Linked DNA regions of Homo sapiens: region 2 is linked to region 1. Evidence: fine-mapped expression QTL. A gene starts in region 1. The other region holds a variant in brackets. All regions are shown on one strand. Distances are between the middles of the regions.

The links. PIP is the estimated chance that this variant, and not a neighbour inherited with it, causes the effect.
Region 2: its variant is the best candidate, but not a certain one, in a credible set for the expression of LRRC70 in whole blood (TOPMed, PIP 0.77).

The regions. Positions count from the first base shown.
Region 1 is chr5:62,576,140-62,581,527 of GRCh38, reverse strand. LRRC70 (leucine rich repeat containing 70) reads right to left here and starts at 2,709. Exons shown (of 2, transcript NM_181506.5): 1 at 2,593-2,709; 2 at 82-2,127. The coding sequence starts at 2,089. The coding sequence ends at 221. The region is part of intron 27 of IPO11 (importin 11); the gene reads right to left. It overlaps IPO11-LRRC70 (IPO11-LRRC70 readthrough), which reads right to left and starts at 2,793. Exons shown (of 4, transcript NR_073584.1): 1 at 2,593-2,793. It also overlaps the pseudogene RPL35AP14.
Region 2 is chr5:62,687,166-62,692,553 of GRCh38, reverse strand. No RefSeq gene overlaps it. Among named protein-coding and RNA genes, the nearest start is that of LRRC70, 110 kb to the right of the region's middle. The variant G/A (reference allele first, on the strand shown) is at 2,560.

The sequences.
Region 1 (5,388 bases):
TACACAGAAATGTTAGCTATTATTACTTAATACAGTATATATCAAAGAAAATATTTGCTAAATGAATACACTGTTCACAAATTATTAAAAACATATTTTAATAATGCTAACCTCATATAATTCATTATATTTCCAACTAAAGTATATAATTATATAAGGAGGTTTCAGTTTAAATCATGTCCATGGCACTGAAGTTTCTTATAGACAATATTTAGTTGAGTTATAAAGCAGAATGTTCAAAAAGAATGACCTGTGCCTCATTTTCAGGAACAATTTGTTTATGAAGTCGAATCTGCTCCAAGCCAGGACTTTCTAGAGAATTTGGGGAAGTGTTACAAATTGAGGCAGTTACATTATACCTTGCTGACTGATAAAAGCTGTAGTATTCAAGTCTATTTTCCCTTGAGTTTTCTGATGCCTTTAGTTTTTGTTTAAACTGAACAACTTTGTAGATCAAAAAAATGATTAAAACACAAGCTAAGATGAAAAAAGCTAGCAAAATGTCAAAAGCCTCATTCAACTTCTCAACTTCTTGTGTACAAATTAGAGATGTTTTCCCTGACATTGAAGCAGCATCATTCGGTAGAGCACTGTTTTTTTCCAAGTTCAAGGTAACAGAAGTAGTAAGTTGTATTTGCACAGGTAACACTGCTGTAGTCTCTAATGGATTACCAAAGGCATTCTCTTGAAAAAATCTACCAGCAGGTGAAGTAGGAATTCGTTCCCAGAAAGTAATGTTCTCAGTCTCAGTATTTTCCAGAGGACTGCCATTTGTGGTTACTTTATGCCAGGCCATCATTAGCGCAGTAGTCTTGTGATGAATATGAGGAGATTTTACAACAGCCCAAGCTCTGGATACATTTATTGAAGATGTAACACAATTTGTAATGTTAATATAACGTAATGCTCTGCCACGCATGGATGGGGGATTCTGACAATAGATGTTTAGAGTAATGGCTGAAGATGCTAGCCAGTCTCGAAGGCCCAAAAGTTTGCAGTTACATTCCCAAGGATTAGAATTTGCCTGAAGATGAATCAATGAAGACAACGGCTTAAGGACCCTTGGATGCAAGGCTGTAAGATTATTAAATGACAGATTAAGGATCTTCAAAGATGCTCCCATATTTTCAAATGTATCATTATCAATGCTAATTATTCTGTTTCTATCTAACTTAAGGTAAATTAAATTCTTTAACAAACTGAATGTGTCAGAATTTAAATTCTCTAAATCATTATGACTTAAGATCAAATGTTTAAGATTATTAATTCCACTAAACCCATCCCTAGTAACATTCCTAATTCTTGAATTTTTCAGGAGGAGGTATTCCAGATTGGCAAGTCCTTTAAATGCAAAGGGCTGTATTGCTTCAATAGGATTATGAGACAAAGAAAGTCTTCTAAGACTTTTAAGTACTTCAAAGGCATTTGATGGTACTTTTGTTAAATTATTACTTCCTAAATACAAACAAGCAAGGTTTTCAAGATGTTGAAAGCCTGATTCTGATATCCTCAAAATGTTATTGTTTGATAAATCAAGTATCCGAAGAGCAACCATACCAACAAAGGTACCACTCCCAAGGACAGTGAGGCGATTCCTTTGTAGATTTAAGTACTGAACTGAAACTAGATCATTAAATACTCCTCTCGGAACAAAAGATACCTGATTATACTGTAAATATAAATTACGAAGATTTAAAAGTCCCTTAAATATTCCAGGATCTAAGCGTTTGATGAAATTATTATTTAGAAATAGAAAATATAGATGCCTCAATTGAACAAAGGCTTTTGGATATACATACAGAATGTTAGAATTATCCAAATACAATGCTACAAGAGAATGAAGTCCTGTTAATTCACTTTCATTTATATAAGATATATTATTCCCAGTCAGATACAGAAAAACTGTACTTTCAGGAAAATTCTTAGGAATACTCGAAAGGCCTAAGTTACGGCAGTTAATTTGTCTCCCAGTGCAGAGCTGACAAACAGACGAACATCCAAGTATTTCTTTGTGGAGTAATAATAAAAGATAACAGGTAACAACCAGAAACAGTCGTAGGCAAGGCAGAGAAAACTGTAATCCACACATATCCCTGTTCTTGGATTTTCTGTTCAGATCAGAATTGGCTATAAAAAGAGAAGGTAAAGCTTTAAATCACGAAAACTTCATCAAATGAATTTTTTTTATAATACTATAACTTCTGTATTCTATTTTAATTAGGATCAGCCAATAATACTATCATAAATCATACCATGGTAATAGCAAAAAATAATGAGTATGGAATACGTTCTAGAATTATTAACATGATCAGGCCATTAACCCACTATTTGACAAAATAGTTCAGATTAATGAAACATTTGCTAAGTTAACTTAAAAATTACAATTGATTACAACACAGGTGACAAATGATGTAGGAATGAGAATCTTTGAATTTAATATGTCCCTTTAACAACATAAAGTCTAATATCAAATAACATTATAATTTATGAAAATACAAATTCACTACAGAACAATTAAATTCTAAATTACAGTTTTTCACAGAACTATTTTTCATGTCAGCTAGAAGTTCATATTTAAGTAAATAATCTTACCAAGAAAAGGAAATTCGTATTATTAACACTCAGCTGATTCAGTAAAGGTTTTCTTTTTAAATCTGAAGAACGACATTTCTTAACTCCAGTTTGTTCTGTGGCACTGCTGACCTCCACCCCACCACTTTTTTTTTTTTTTTTTTAAGTCACCGTTTGCTCAGGAAACACCACTCTTCACATTGGTTCCTTTACAGTCAATGTGTAAAACAGAGGTTGCCATGGATACAGGAAGCTAAGAGACAGGAAGTAATTTTATCTGTGTTTCAAAAGTATTGCTGAACGGAAATCTCAGGAACTTATTTTTTCAGAATGCAGTTAGAGTTTTCCTAATATACACATTGAAATATCTCCTATAATATAAAAATAATAGTTTTTAAAGGATACTTGAAAACATTAGTTATTCAGAACCCAAATATCAATCAACAGACTCTAGCTATCAAACAACATAGCTACTGAATGGAAAAGGCTAGTTCAAATAAGATGTATATCGAGTAATACAATTTTTTGTAAACTTTTTAATGAATAAAATATTTATGTTGTGTTAAATACGCATTGAAGACTTAAACTTTATGCTTTATTCCTTTAATAAAAATAGGGGAAAAAATTTAGAATGAACATAAATGTTGTTATATTATCCTCCAGTGCTCTTTTTAAAATTTTCAAAATATTTTTGGTTGCAAAAAATACTGAGTACTACTTAATACGTGAGGTACTAATTGGTAGTAAGCTACTAATTAGTAGTAACGCACTAATTGGTTGTGTTGGGTTATAAGATGTTAAGAAGCTGCATACCAACTTACTGACATAGGTTATCTTTGCAAGAAAAATTGGGGAGAGTAAAAGAGGCGATGTTTCGCCCTATATATATCTGTATCAGTTTGAATCTTTTAGAACAAAAATGGAGAATTTTTTAACGTCATTTTTCAAGAATTTAAAGAATCGGATATAAATTGTTTATATTATATATTGTTCAGTCATTAACTTTCTTTCATTAACTTTAAGCTAGTTGCTTAAGCTTTCTAATTCTGACTTTTATTAATATTACTAATAGCCTGATAATATTCCTAAAATATCAAGTTATATAATTGTATACAACTCTCCTTTGATATTAAAGCAGTTTCATTTCACATCAACAATTACTTTAGAAATAATATGAATTATGTCCATATTAGAAAGCTGAAATAATACCTAGCATTATCTTTCTATGACTAAAAATTCAGCAATGCATACTGGATAGCAGATCGTTATCAAAATGACTTATGATTCTTACACCTATCCATTATGGCTGGTTACTGTTATTGCTATTTTATGCATTAAAAATGGAAAACAAAACAAGTGACAGAAATGATATGAATTTGAGGTAGGGGCTATGTTTCTCAGGTCCATTTTGTTTAGTACTTCCAATAATATACAAGGTGATATGAAGCTTGTCCCATGGATTTTTCAATTTCTTGGGAAAAATTCAGAGAAAGGGTCCTTTGAAATAAAAATAAAATTAAAGAGAAAAAACCCACAAAGTAATATAACCAGAGTATGAATTAATTTTGTTCTTTATGCCAAAAATATCCAAAGCAGTAAAGAACACTTATTAGGATGCAAAGGTAAAATTTTTAGGAAACTGTATTAAGGAAAAATGACAAAATAAAATCTCACTTCTCACATTCTAAAAACTGAAGGAAACTAAACTGACTTCAACAAAACAAGCAAATATAAATAGTACACTGTAACTCTCAGGTTGAATGGTTTAAAAAAAAATTCCTATCTCCAGCAAAACAAAGTTTAGTCTTTCTGTTCATTTAGGAGTTGCTGTTCTTAGAGACAACTGATCAACAATGATTCCTCATTATCCTTTTCTGATTACTAATGTTCATTACAACTATTACTGAACACTACGCTCAACCTCTTAAATTAGTCTTCTATTTCTTTCCAGGAAATTGACTCATTGAGCTGTTTTCCTCTCATTCTTGTTGCTGAACCTTCTTTTACACTGCCTTTGTCTTCAAATCATCTCATGCTTCTGGTATTAATACACAACTATTCTCTTTTCCATTCAGATTCTCCCCATACAAAAACAAGAATGTATAAATAACAGAGCAATTGTTCCATTAGCTCTTTTAAATATACATCATCTGTATGGATGCATGTATTCTTTTGAGACACAGTCTTGCTCTGTCGGCTGGGTTGGAGTGCAACAATGTGAGTACAGCTCACCACAGCATCGACCTCCCAGTCTCAAGTGATCCTCTTCCCTCAGCCTCTTGAGTAGCTAGGACTGCAGGTGCATGCCACCATGCTTTTTCTTATTTTTGTAAAGACGGAGTCTTGCCATTCTGCTCAGGCTGGTCTTGAACTAGTAGGTTCAAGTAATCCTCCCACCTTGGCCTCCCAAAGTGCTGGGATTACAGGTGTGAGCCACTGCGTCCAGCCTATATGTATTTAGATATATACCATCTATATATAAACCAATCAAGATTGGTTTACATATAAAGAATGGCTTATAATAACAGCAGTTACTGATTTTATGGACCTTAAAAGTCACTGATGGAACTAAAATCAAGAGAATGAAAATGTGAAATGGGATTTGCAATTAAAAATAATCCAGCTCTTCCTGCCATCATGAAGCCTGTCGAGGCCTGCTTGGAACATGACTTCTAAAAGGCAAGTATTTCTGGAAGGCTGTCATCCAAGGCCATTTTTGCGCTATAAGCAGGGTCTCTGGAACCAAAGGGAGCACACAAATCTTCTTAAAACTGAAGGTGTTTATGCCCAAGATGAAACTGAATTCTATTTGGGCAA
Region 2 (5,388 bases), 110 kb before region 1:
CAAAGACCAGAGATGACGTCTTAATTTCATGCTGTGAGGCTGGTGGAGCCAGAGCTCCACTGCATACCTCACTGGACCATTGCTCCTGTGGTCCTGTGTTCTTAGTCATCTGAGCCAGCCCTGCAACCAAGCAGCAGAGCCAGGGGGCTCATGAAAAGAATAATCCCACAGCTCAGCATTAGCCTCAAAGCAGCAGATATGGGGACCTCTGTAACTGGCACCCTGGACTAGAAGCAAATATCTGCAATTGCCTAAAACATATAAGTGTGTGTGTGTGTGTGTCTGTGTATCAAGAACACCCTTTGCAGAGGGTAAAGAATAGGAACAAAACTGTCTTGAAAATGCTGTGTCATTAACACAGAGGTAAGAATGGAAAGCAGGCCAGGTGCAGTGGCTCACACCTGTAATCCCAACACTTTGGGAGGCTGAGGCATTTGAGGCCAGCATGGGCAACACGGCGAAACCCCATCTCTACAAAAAATACAAAAAAATACATGGTGGTGTGCACCTGTAGTCCCAGCTACTCAGAAGGCTGAGATGGGAGGACACTTAAGCCCAAGAGGCAGAGGTTGCAGCAAGCCAAGATCATGCCACTATATTCCGTCCAGCCTGACAGAGCTAGACCCTGTCTCAAAAAAAAAAAAAAAAAAAAAAAAAAAAAGAATGGAAAACAAACATATACAATGCAACCTCAACTGGCAGGATGAAACCCCAGGTTCTTGTGTTAACTCCGCTGGCTGGGCAGCCCAGGATGGGTCACTTTCACTCTCCATCTCCACACTGGTACGGGAAGAAATTGGGCTGGGAGACAGATCACTCAGGTTCTTCCAGTTCTAACTCTCTGTGACTCCTTGATTCTAGTTTGCGCTACCAGGCAAGGTTCTATGTAAAAATAGAGGTTCCTCTTCAAAGACTTTCCTCTCCATTTAATTAGGAATAAATAATAACTTCTCTTAGAAGCAAAATTTATTCAAAAACCTGTGCTAACATTCTTAAATATCTGCTAGTCGTAATAAGAAAACCAATATACTTTATGTTCTTAGCTCCCACAATTTAGCCTAAATATTTGCCCTGGCATGCTTATACTGGTCCAAGCAGGCATTAGTTCATAGCCTGTTTCTCTTCCTTATTTAAAGGTGTTTTTACCTTTCTCAGCATTCCACAAGTTACTTCCTCCTTCCTTTTTTCTCCTCTAGCTTTGCCTCTTTTAATAAGTTCTAAGTTGCTAGCCAATCGGGACAAATACAGAATGTGAGGTCCTGTTCCAGCCAATGGAAACCGGACACAGCAGAAGGGTGGACGCGTCAGGTTATAAATGACCCTGTCTCCTTTGTTCGGGGTACTCTCGTGGCAAAACTGCTGCCAAGTGTACCCTTTCTGCAGAAAATAAAAATGGCCTTGCTGAATAAATTTAAGTTCAAGTACTATTTCTTTACGGCACCGGGGAACAAGCATTTCAAACTGTTATATGTCCACTGGCATGACCTCCAAAATGACCTCTAATTTTGGCCTTCTAAAATCAGTAGGACAGCTTTTTATCTCAGAGGGTAGTCACAGTAGTTGGGCATTCCTATGTGTCAGGGCCACCTGGCAAAAATTCCAATGCAGTCTCCTTCAGGGGCAGGGGCCTGCTGTGTCCTCTCCCCTAGCACTGGACTCAGTAAGGCAGGAGGGCAAGACCCATCCAGATGCTGTCCAGGATGAGGGTGAACAAAGGGGTCAACCTCTGTCTCTTCCAATGACCACAAACCAAAGGGACTCAGAGTACCAAAAATTTTACTAACATAAATAGGAAACTTGGGGACTGAGCACACCAGAGCCACTTGGAGGTAAGAGGGCCACTCTGCATACACTTTCTGTTAGTCAAACCAAATTAAACAGCAGGAGCTCCCCAGCACTCCCCACCATGACCTGTCTACTCGAAAGTCCCGGAGCTTTGTGAAGGAGGGCGGCCTTTAAGAATGGTCAGAGGCTCTCTCACCCTCTGCTGGGGGAAGAGTGGGGCAGGCAAACCCGGCATAATCCTTAGAGAGGTCAGGAGAGATTTCTTTCTAAGGCCAGGGTCTCCTGTGGCCACTTTAGGAGTCAGGACCCGGGGCCAGGAAGACGGCAGTGGGTTTGACTTGCATACATTAGGCTCCTGCTAACTGGCAGTTTAAATAAATTGAAGTAGGACTTTAGCTTTTCCTTAGCATTTCTGCCTGAGTTTCAGCTGTTTCACCAAAAGGTGAAACAGCTATTGTGCAAAAACTTTTCTAATAAAAGCCCTGAGTCATCTGGTCTACTTTAAACTTCAGAGAAGAGTTAGTGGCTTTTACAGTTCTTTTCCATTTTGAGGAACACTCCTGAACTTTGTTTTTTATCAAGAACTGAAACCCTTTCTAATCACTTCAGCATTTAGATGTTTTTAAATCTTGCTTTAAGTAGTTTCACTTTTGATTTTTTTCAGTTATGTTTACTGGGTTATGATAAAGGATACAACTTAGGAATAGTTGAGTGGAAGAGATGTGCAGGGCACGGAAGTGGGGTTGGGGCACGGAGTCCCCATGCCCTCCCGGG[G/A]CCCCCTGGCAGCACTTCCGTGTGTTCACCAAGCCAGAAGCTGCAATTGTGAAAAAATATTTCCCCATGATTTTCCAATAGGCTTTCACCTAATAACGCAACAGATGTGGTGTTTTATGGTTCACAACCCACTTTCCAAGGAGCTATCTCATCAGATACTCATGGAGCAGGCCCGCTACCATTGCTAAAATGCAGACTCCGCCTCTGGGAGTGTTGATGGCCACACCCAACTGGCGTGGGTTTATTTTGCCCTAAAGATACATTTTTAGGACTTCAAGTCTTTTCCTGTCTCCTGAGGAAATCCTGGGATGATTTTGCCAAAAAGTCCCACACACCAGCATTTGTTTATACCTATTTCCGGGAGTTATAGCTGGAAAAGGAAGAAATATGATCATGATCAATTTTCCTCTTGTAAAAAAATTTTTTTCTTTTTTTTTTTTTTTTTGAGGCAGGGTCTTGCTCTGTCACCCAGACTGGAGTGCAGTGGTGCAATCACGGCTCACTGCAGCCTCAACCTCCCAGACTCAAGTGATCCTCCTGCCTCAACCTCCCAAATAGTGGGGAATACAAGAACACACTACCACACCCAGCTAATTATTTTTATTTTTTGTAAAGATGGGGTCTCACTATGTTGCTCAGGCTGGTCTCAAACTCCTGGGCTTGTGCAATCCTCCTGTCTCAACCTCCCAAAGTGCTGGGATTACAGGTGCTGGAATTACAGTTTCCCAAAGTGTTAGGATTACCATGCCCAGCCTGTTTCCCTTTTAACACACTCAAATAAATCTGATGCAAACTCATTATAATGGCATGGACTTGACTAGCCAAACATATAACTATGATTGTTTTCTTAAGAAGGATTTTTAAAAAGCACAAGTCAACAGAACTTCTTGAAACTTCTGTATTGTAGGTTGGTTGGGCCAGCTCTCAACCAAACTACCAAGCATCAATACCCCTCTTCAGTCTTCTACTATCTTTCAACTCTCATCTCTTCAAATAGTGGTGGTCCCTCCTGTCTACTGAGCCCTTTAAGCAGGCATTCCTATATTTCATCAAAACCTAAAAAAGAAGTGGAATAATCTGTCATTGGCTTGAAATAAAATGTCTTGGTGTGAACACGTCACTTACCTTCTTAACTCTCCCAAGTATATTTTATATTTTAAACTTATTTCTTATATTGAATGAAAGGAAGGCTTTTCTGTTGTTAATAAAATGTTAGGCATTGGGAGGCAGATGGCATATTTGGAGGGGACAGGAGAAGAGGCAAAAAGCTTCCCGGGGTCCAGGCATGGTGGCTCACACCTGAAATCCCAGCACTTTGGGAAGCCAAGGTGGGAGGATCACTTGAGTCCAGGAGTTTGAGACCAGCCTGGGCAACATAGCAAGATGTCTCTACAAAAATTAAAAATTAAAAAATTAGCTGGTCATGGTGGCATGCATGTGTAGTCCCAGCTACTCAGGAGGCTGAGGCAGGAGGATCATTTGAGCCCAGGAGTTTGAGGTTATAGTGAGCTATGATTGCACCACTGCACTCCAGCCCTCAGCCTGGGTGACAGAACAAGACCCTTTTATTTTCTAAAAGGAAAAAAAAAAAGCAAGCTTCCCAGGAACCCAGGAAGTGTTACTTGTCCAAATAATACCTTAGTGTATACATTCTGACCCAAAGTTTTAAATGAAACTTAAAAAGTGCAATGTGAAGTTGTGTCAGTTAAGATTACTGACTTCAGTTTTCTGTTCTTCAAATGTTGCCTTTGTCTGAATGCCTCTGCAGAAAGGCTTGTTGAGAAGATGCATATACATATGTATGTAGAGTATTATGTATGTGTCTCTGCATATGTGTATACATATGTGCATGAAGATGCAGCGTTTTACAACATATAAGACTTAAGCTAAATTATTATTGGAAGTAATTACCTACAGGTGAGGAACCTGAGAGGAAAGGAAAGTGTAGTGGTATGTCCAAGACTTGAGAATAAGTCCCTGTGAAATCAAAGGCAGGTCACCAATTCACAGTCCCCCAAGGCTTGTTCACATCCACCCACTCCTGGCGCCTACCCTTTAAGTTTAGCGTTTCAGAGTCTCACCAACATCCCTTAGTCTTTTTCACATGGGTCACAATTGGGGTATGTTATTATTGTATTTGACAGTTATTATTACATTAGAAAATTATTAGTTTACTGAATGAGCTACTCTTCAGCAGTCCCTAGGGAAGCACCAAGGAATACATTCAGAACTTTGAGCACATGCTCAAGTCTCTTTTCTACCCTATCTTTCTTTAATCCAGGCCCATTGTGATGGTTTTTTCTAATGTCAACTTAGTTGGACTATAGTGTCCAGTTATCCAAACACTAATGTAGGTACCGCTAGATATTCTGCAGATATAATTGAATTATCAGATAAACTGACTTTGAATAAGGGAAATTCTCTTAAATAATCTGGATGGGCCTAATCAATCAGATAAAATACCTCCAAAGCACAGCTAAGACTTCCCTGAGAAGAGAAGAAATGCTTCCTGTGTATAGTAGTCTCAATCTGTGCCTGTGAGTTCCAGCCTGCCTATGATCTTTCAATGTTGAGGATCTGTCCTATGAATTTCAGATTTGTTTAGTGAGTCCCAATTTCATAGGCCAATTCCTTGTAATAAATTGATGGATGGGGCTGGGCATGGTGGCTCATGTCTGTATTCCTAGCACTTTGGGAGCTGAGGTGGGCAGATCACCTGAGGTCAGGAATTTGAGACCAGCCTGGCCAATATGGTGAAACCCTATCTCTACTAAAAATACAAAAATTATCTGGGCATGGTGGTGGGTGCCTGTAATCCCAGCTACTTGG